Linked DNA regions of Homo sapiens. The protein of the gene in region 2 interacts with the protein of the main gene of each other region in a pairwise test. Each region holds a gene or a part of one and is shown on either strand. Other genes may lie near its edges.

Region 1 (3,500 bases), on a different chromosome or scaffold from region 2:
GAAGAAAGAGTCAGAGACGAAGTCTCCAAAGGGATGAGGCTGGGACCCTGCATAGAAGTTGCTGGGCTTCCCCTGGGACTCACTGAAACCACCCACCCCAGTACTCTTGTTGGGTCAGGTGCATAGTCCTTATAGCCTTCCTCCAAGCCCCATCAGAACTCCCTCTCAGTCCCAGTGGCCTCTCCTCCCATCACATCCCCATCTCCTCAGTGCTGGGGATCAGAAGACAAACAACCCGATACTACAAGTTCATAGCAAGGGATGGATGAGGAATACCCTGTCACCCACTAAATGCATGGACATACATGCATCTGAACATGCTGCTGTTTTTAATTAGTTCAACAGAATGAAGATCTTCAGACAGTATGGGGAAGAGATTTGTAGAGTAGGCCCTCCTATCTCCCCTTAAATGACATCATTCATGCAAACTCCACAGCTAAACCAGTTTCCCCAGATCCACTGATATGGCAGGTACTTGGTCCTCAATCTTACAACTAGCTTTTCCTGCTGGGCACACATAGTGGCTCATAGCTGTAACCTCAGCTACTCAGGAAGCTGAGGCAGGAGGACTGGTTGAGCCCAGGAGTTCAAGACCAGCCTGGGCAACATAATGAGAAAACTAGGCGAGTGTGGTAGCACACATCTGTGGTCCCAGCTACTCAGGAGGCTGAAGCAGGAGGATGCATTGAGCCTGGGAGTTCAAGGTTGCAGTGAGCTGTGACTATACCACTGCACTCTAGCCTGGGTGCAAACCAGTGAGTGAGACCCTGTCTCAAAAAAAAAAAAAAAAAAAAAGAGCTTTCCCTGCCTGCTTCTCTGTGCACGGGGAACTAAACCTAGCACCTTGGCCCAGACCTGCTGTAGGGTTTCAGGTGTATCTTCCTAACCAGATCAGAAAGAAATGAGGGATGGTTCTTGTTCCACAGCCCTAATGCTGGCCCACAGCTCATTCATCCTGTATGACCCAAAGCCATAGTGGTACTTGCGCCTCCCCCATATCTGCCATTGAGTCTCTTCCCTCCCCTCTCAGCACACGATATATTCTCCAGTTAAATGTGAGGAGTTCTGCCTCAGAGGCCACCGTCCTTGCCAGCAGCTGTCTCTGAAATCCTTCCTCTCCCTCCTTTCCAGCCTCTCTCTTCCTCATCCTTCCTCTGGGAAGCCTTGCCTGACCCGCAAAACCTGGACTGAGAGCTCCCAAGGCACCCTGAGCTCCTGTTATTGCGGTGCCTGTCACACAAGATAAATGCCTTCCCCCCATCCCCGTTTGTCTGCATCCTCCATGGACTGCAAGCTCCATGAGGGCAGGGACCGGGCCAGCCTTGCTTCCTCGGTGCCTGCCTCTGTGCTTGGTAGATCTACGAGTATTGAATAAATGAATGATGGTAAGAACCCAAAGAGCAAATGTCTGTAGTGCTTCAATGTACTCGTACTGGAGTTCAATGTACTCCAGTTACCCTGGGGGCCTTTGGAATCTACAGACTGCAGAAGAACCCATCTTATTACAGGAAGTTCCTCTTGGTTTGGGCTGTTGCATTCCTCTACCAGGATTTCTTTTTTTTTTTTTTTTAGGACTAAGGATAAAGATGAGAAGACTTGGGGATAAGATAAGGGTCTTCAAAACACTTCAAAAGCTGTCACATGGAAAGACTTACATGTGGCCTTATCATGGCTTTGGGGGCAGAACAAAGGCTAGTCACTAGGCATGATTAGAAGGCAGATTTTTAATTTACCAAGAATTAGAGCTGTCCCACAATCATATGAGCCACCTGAGGTCCACCCTGGCAGGTGTTCACACAGCGCCAACTGGGGCTTGATCATGCACTGACTCAGACCAGGTGACCTCTAAGAGCTTTCAAAACCCCAAGGCCAATTTTAACAGCACTGAAGAGTCTGTCTTTCTCTGCCCTTCACAATGAACTGGCTTGATCAAATGTCAGTGGTTTGGAGAGAGACTCAAGTAGCCCTCCGTGTGTGCATTTGGGAAATCGATGCAAACTCAAGGTCATGGGGAGAAAGTGCAGCCTGCACATTTGGAAAGGGAAGGAGGATCATGAATGTGCAGTCTATCCCTTTCAGACCCTGCCTGGGTTCCTGAACACATCCAGCCTTTCTGGCCTTCAGGGCATACTGCTGTCTGCAGACAAAGTCCACCTGCTCCCAACAACCATCTCTCCCAGCTACCTCTAAATAGTCAAAAGATAGTTCCTGGTTATGTGTGGAGACTGTCAGTGTATGACTGACAGCACTCTCGCCCCCACTTCCACCTACACCAGCTCAGACAGGTGTCTCTCTCCTGTTCCTAAAGACCTTCAGGCAAAGGGATTTCAAGCAGCCTCCTTCTGTCACCTAATCCGATGCCTTATGAGACCCCCAGAGACTTCCTGGCCCAGATTTGTCAGCCATGGGGTCTGCCTCTGATGGTAGTCCCCAAAACATGCCGACTTTGAGTTGGAGGAAGATGATTATTTTCCTTGATATCAACATCAAAGGGTTAAGAACATCCATAAACATCTCGTTTCCATGATGGGCCCATTAGCCATGGAGTAATTGTCTAAACCAGTTTTCCCAATCCTGATTCTCCATCAAAGTGCCCAGGAGAAGCTGAGTAAAAGTCAATGTTTTGATTCTACTCCAAGAGATTTGAAGTCAGTAATTCTGGGGGGCGTGGAGGGGCAGGTGACGTAGACACACAGCCATGGCTGAATCGCAGTGCATCTCCTGACCTCCTTTGGGAAGGTAGAGTGGGAAAGACATTAATTAGGTGACAATAGCCCCGTGTCCAGTGTCCACTTTGCCACTGACATGCGATGTGACCTGGGGCTCCTTTTCCACATCTGCAGAATATGGCTCATGATATTCACCTCCTGACGTATTGTGAGGATGAGATGAGATGAGAAAGGGAAAGGATCATAGACTAAGGGTGATCAAACCTCCTGCTGTGCCTGGGACAGTTCCAGTTCACATCTGTTTTCCTGGCATAATGATTAATAGGTCTCCCTTTCACCTGCATACGTGTCCTTAATGGAAAGATGCGTTACATGGCCACCCTACCTAAAACATATTAGGCCCATGTTAGGGACTTACTAAGCCATTGCATCAGGCAAGTCTTTGGTCATTAGAGTGGTATATGATTTTATTAGTCCATCAACTATGGCTCTGGTCTGCAAAGATATGCCGCCTCTCTCTACTGGTGGAGAATGTCTTGGAAAACATCCAGAATGTCACCGTGCACAAGGGTGGGCGCTCAGGAAAGGGTTGTGGACAACATCTAGAGTTCTCCTTGTCAGGGAGGAAAGCTTTCCCTTCCCCTGCCCCAACCCCATCTATGACCATCCAGATTGTACAACTGGCTTTCAGCCTTCCCCATTCTGAAGATGCCTCCCTGCTCTTAGCATTCTGGCCCCACATACCCCTTTTCTCCCTCCCACAGTTCCCTTCCCCATCACAGTCTCTCTGATTCTAGGCTTTAGGCAGCTTTTCTTCTACATTTTGAAGTG
Region 2 (3,500 bases):
AAACTCTGGTACTGGTTTATGTATTTACTATACTTTTTATTATTATTTTAGAGGGTACTGCTACTTATAAAAGTGATATTGATGATCCTGACTCTGTGCAGGTCTAAGCTAATATATATGTGTTTGTGTCTTAGTTTTTAACAAAAAAGTTTTAAAAGTAATAAAACAATTTAAAAGTAGGGAAAAGCTTATAGAATAAGGATATAAAGAAAATATTTCTCTATAGCTGTACAAAGTGTTTGTGTTTTAAGTGTTATTACAATAGAGACAAAAAGTTAAAAATTTTAAAGTTTATACAAGTTACAGTAAGCTAAGGTGAACTGATTACTGAAGAAAAAAAAATTTTTTTAAATGTAGTATAGGCCAGGCACAGTGGCTCATGTCTTAATCCGAGTACTTTGGAAGGCCAAGGTGGGCGGATCACCTGAGGTCAGTAGTTCGAGACCAGCCTGGCCAACATGGAGAAACCCCATCTCTACCAAAAATACAAAAATTAGGCGGGCGTGGTGGCACATGCCTATAATCCCAGCTACTTGGGAGGCTGAGGTGGGAGAATCGCTTAAACCTGGGAGGCGGAGGTTGCAGTGAGCCAAGATCACACAACTGCACTCCAGCCTGGGCAACAGAGGAAGACTCCGTCTCAAAAAAAAAAAAAGTAGTATAGCCTAATCGTACAGTGTTTATAAAATCTACAGTAGAGTACAGTAACATCCTAGACCTTCACATTCACTCACCACTCACTCACTGACTCACCCAGAGCAACTTCCCCATCCTGCAAGCTCCATTCAGGGTAAGTACCTTATACAGGTATACCATTTTTTATGTATTTTTATGTCTCTATGTTTAGATACAAAAATATTTACCATTATGTTACAATGTCTACAGTATTCAGCACAATAACATGCTATACAGGTTTGTAGACTAGGAGCAACAGGCTACATGATATAGCATGGGTGACAAAGACTTTAAGCCAACTGTCTTATGTATGTTCAAAGAACTAAAGGAAACCAGGAAAAAAATGTATGAACAAAATTAAGAGTACCAATAATGAGGCAGAATTATTAAAAGCCCATCAAATAGAAACTCAGGAACTGAAAAGTACAATAACTAAAATGAAAAATCTTTAGAGGGGCTTAATGAATTTGAGTACAAAGAAGAGTCAGCAAATTTAAAGATAGTATAATTTAAATTATCCAGTGTGTGTCTTGGTTTGAGTTCAGTCTAAATCAATCAATCAATCAATCAATCATCCAGTATGAGGAACAGAAAGAAAAATGAAGAAAAGTAAACAGAGTCCAAGGGACCTGTGGGACATCATCAAGTGAACTAACATATGCATTACAGGAGTCTCAAGAGGGGAAGTGCAATAGGATCAGAAAGAATGTTTGAAGAAATAATGGTTGAAAAACTCCCAAATTTGATGAAAGAGGTGAATCTACATATCCAAGAAGCTCAATGAACTCTAAAGAGACCCACACTGAGACGTGTTATAGTCAAACTGTCAAAAGCCAAAGACAATGAAAACAACAAGAGAGAAACAACTCATCACATACAAGAGAGCCTTAATAAAATTACTAGCTGATTTCTTATAAAAAACCATGGAGACCAGAAAATAAGAATGTCGATCAAGAATTCTATATCTGACAAAACTATTCCTAAAGAAATTCTCAGATAAACAAAAGCTACAGAATTTACTAGTAGACCTGCCCTACAAGAAATGCTAAAGAGAATCTCTCAGATTGAAATTAAAGGACATCAGACAGTAACTTGAAGCCATATGAAAAAATAAAGAGCAATTGTGAAAAATCTGTCTTTGTTTTTCTATTCTGTGGCTAGCTCTGTGTTCCCCTTACCATTCTTTCTGCCTTAATTTCATTTACTTTGAGAGCAGTAATTATGGCAAACAAACAACAAAAACAACCAGTAGTAGGAGGTAGAAGACATATAGAAATGGTTCCCAATCATTTTAAAACTGTGGATGTAAGGCCAAATTACTTAATGTTTAGAAGCCTCAGTTTTCATATAAAATGAAGAGAATAGTCTGACTCTCACAAGTTGTTAAGATTAAGAGCAGTTTTGACTGCTATTAATTGAAGGAATTCTCAGAATAAGGCATATTGCTAACATTTACAGAAAGATGGTTTTGCAAAGAAAATTATCTATATAATGCTGTCCTCTGTCTCTTCCAGCAATTTGAGTCAGAATACCTCTAGTTAACAGACATACCTCTAGAGTAGACCTTAGATGAACATATAAGTAAATAATGGCATAATGATCATCATAATCCCAGTAACATTAGCAGCAACCAATATATACTATTTATCATATGTCATGTTATTCTAGTAAGGTAGGTATACTAATATTCCCATATTTAAGAGGAGGAAGCTGAAGCACAGTGAAGTTAAGTGACTTGTCCAATATTACACAACTTGTAAGCAGCAGAGTTTTAACTTAGGCAGTATGAATCCAAAGACTGTACTTTTCACCACCACATTATGCGGCATCTGTTTCCTCTGTCAAGTACAAGGAACTAGATTATATGGGATTGTTATGACTGGCCTGCGTGGTCAGAGTTTGATATTGGTCTATGAGGAACAACAAAGAATAACACAAATCATGGAAGGAGGGAATTACCCTAAGGCAAAAAGCCATAAGCAGATTTATCCTGTCTTCTGCCACTATTTCTCAGGCATTTACAGAGTTGTACTGGGAAAGGAAGGAATAAAAAGACACTTAAGAGGTTGCTTAAAATTTTTTTTGAGTTTTGTTATCAGGTCTAGACTAGAACATTATTTTGCTTCTGTGGTTCAGGGTCAACAAAATAACCCAATATTCTATAACAAAATAGCCTCTATCTTAATTTCCCTTATCCAGTTATAGGGAAATGGGTCCTGGTGGCTCTAACATGTTTTAAGTTTGTTAAAAGTTTATTCATTTAGGCCGGGCGCGGTGGCTCACGCCTGTAATCCCAGCACTTTGGGAGGCCGAGGCAGGCGGATCACGAGGTCAGGAGATCGAGACCATCCTGGCTAACACGGTGAAACCCCGTCTCTACTAAAAATACAAAAAATTAGCCGGGCGTGGTGGCGGGCGCCTGTAGTCCCAGCTACTCGGGAGGCTGAGGCAGGAGAATGGCGTGAACCCGGGAGGCGGAGCTTGCAGTGAGCTGAGATCGCGCCACTGCACTCCAGCCTGGGCGACAGAGCGAGACTCCGTCTCAAAAAAAAAAAAAAAAAAAAAAAAAAAAAAAAGTTTATTCATTTAACAAGCAACCATTTTGTGCCAAACACTGTGCTAGGTGCTGCTGAAGTAAAGATAAATAAAACATGATCCTACTCCCTAAGGAGCTTACAGTCAGCAGAGATGAAAGTTATAGACAGAAGTATTTTAAATCCACTTGGCCTGGTACAGAGGGAGCCCAGAATAGAGAGTGGTTGGCTGTGTCTAAAGATGGACAATCTAGGAAAGGCACTGACCATACAACAGTGCCTACAAAAATG

What was found. Proteins that work in one complex are often made in the same cells at the same time.
Region 1: the proteins of ZNF451 (region 2) and PRMT8 interact in a two-hybrid assay, tested with the Homo sapiens proteins (one large-scale study listed by BioGRID and IntAct).

What each region holds. Positions count from the first base shown.
Region 1 is NC_000012.12:3,588,703-3,592,202, reverse strand, and holds part of PRMT8 (protein arginine N-methyltransferase 8), read right to left. Parts: intron 1-3,500. UniProt on the Homo sapiens protein: S-adenosyl-L-methionine-dependent and membrane-associated arginine methyltransferase that can both catalyze the formation of omega-N monomethylarginine (MMA) and asymmetrical dimethylarginine (aDMA) in proteins such as NIFK, myelin basic protein, histone H4, H2A and H2A/H2B dimer.
Region 2 is NC_000006.12:57,163,188-57,166,687, reverse strand, and holds part of ZNF451 (E3 SUMO-protein ligase ZNF451), read right to left. Parts: intron 1-3,500. UniProt on the Homo sapiens protein: E3 SUMO-protein ligase; has a preference for SUMO2 and SUMO3 and facilitates UBE2I/UBC9-mediated sumoylation of target proteins. Plays a role in protein SUMO2 modification in response to stress caused by DNA damage and by proteasome inhibitors (in vitro).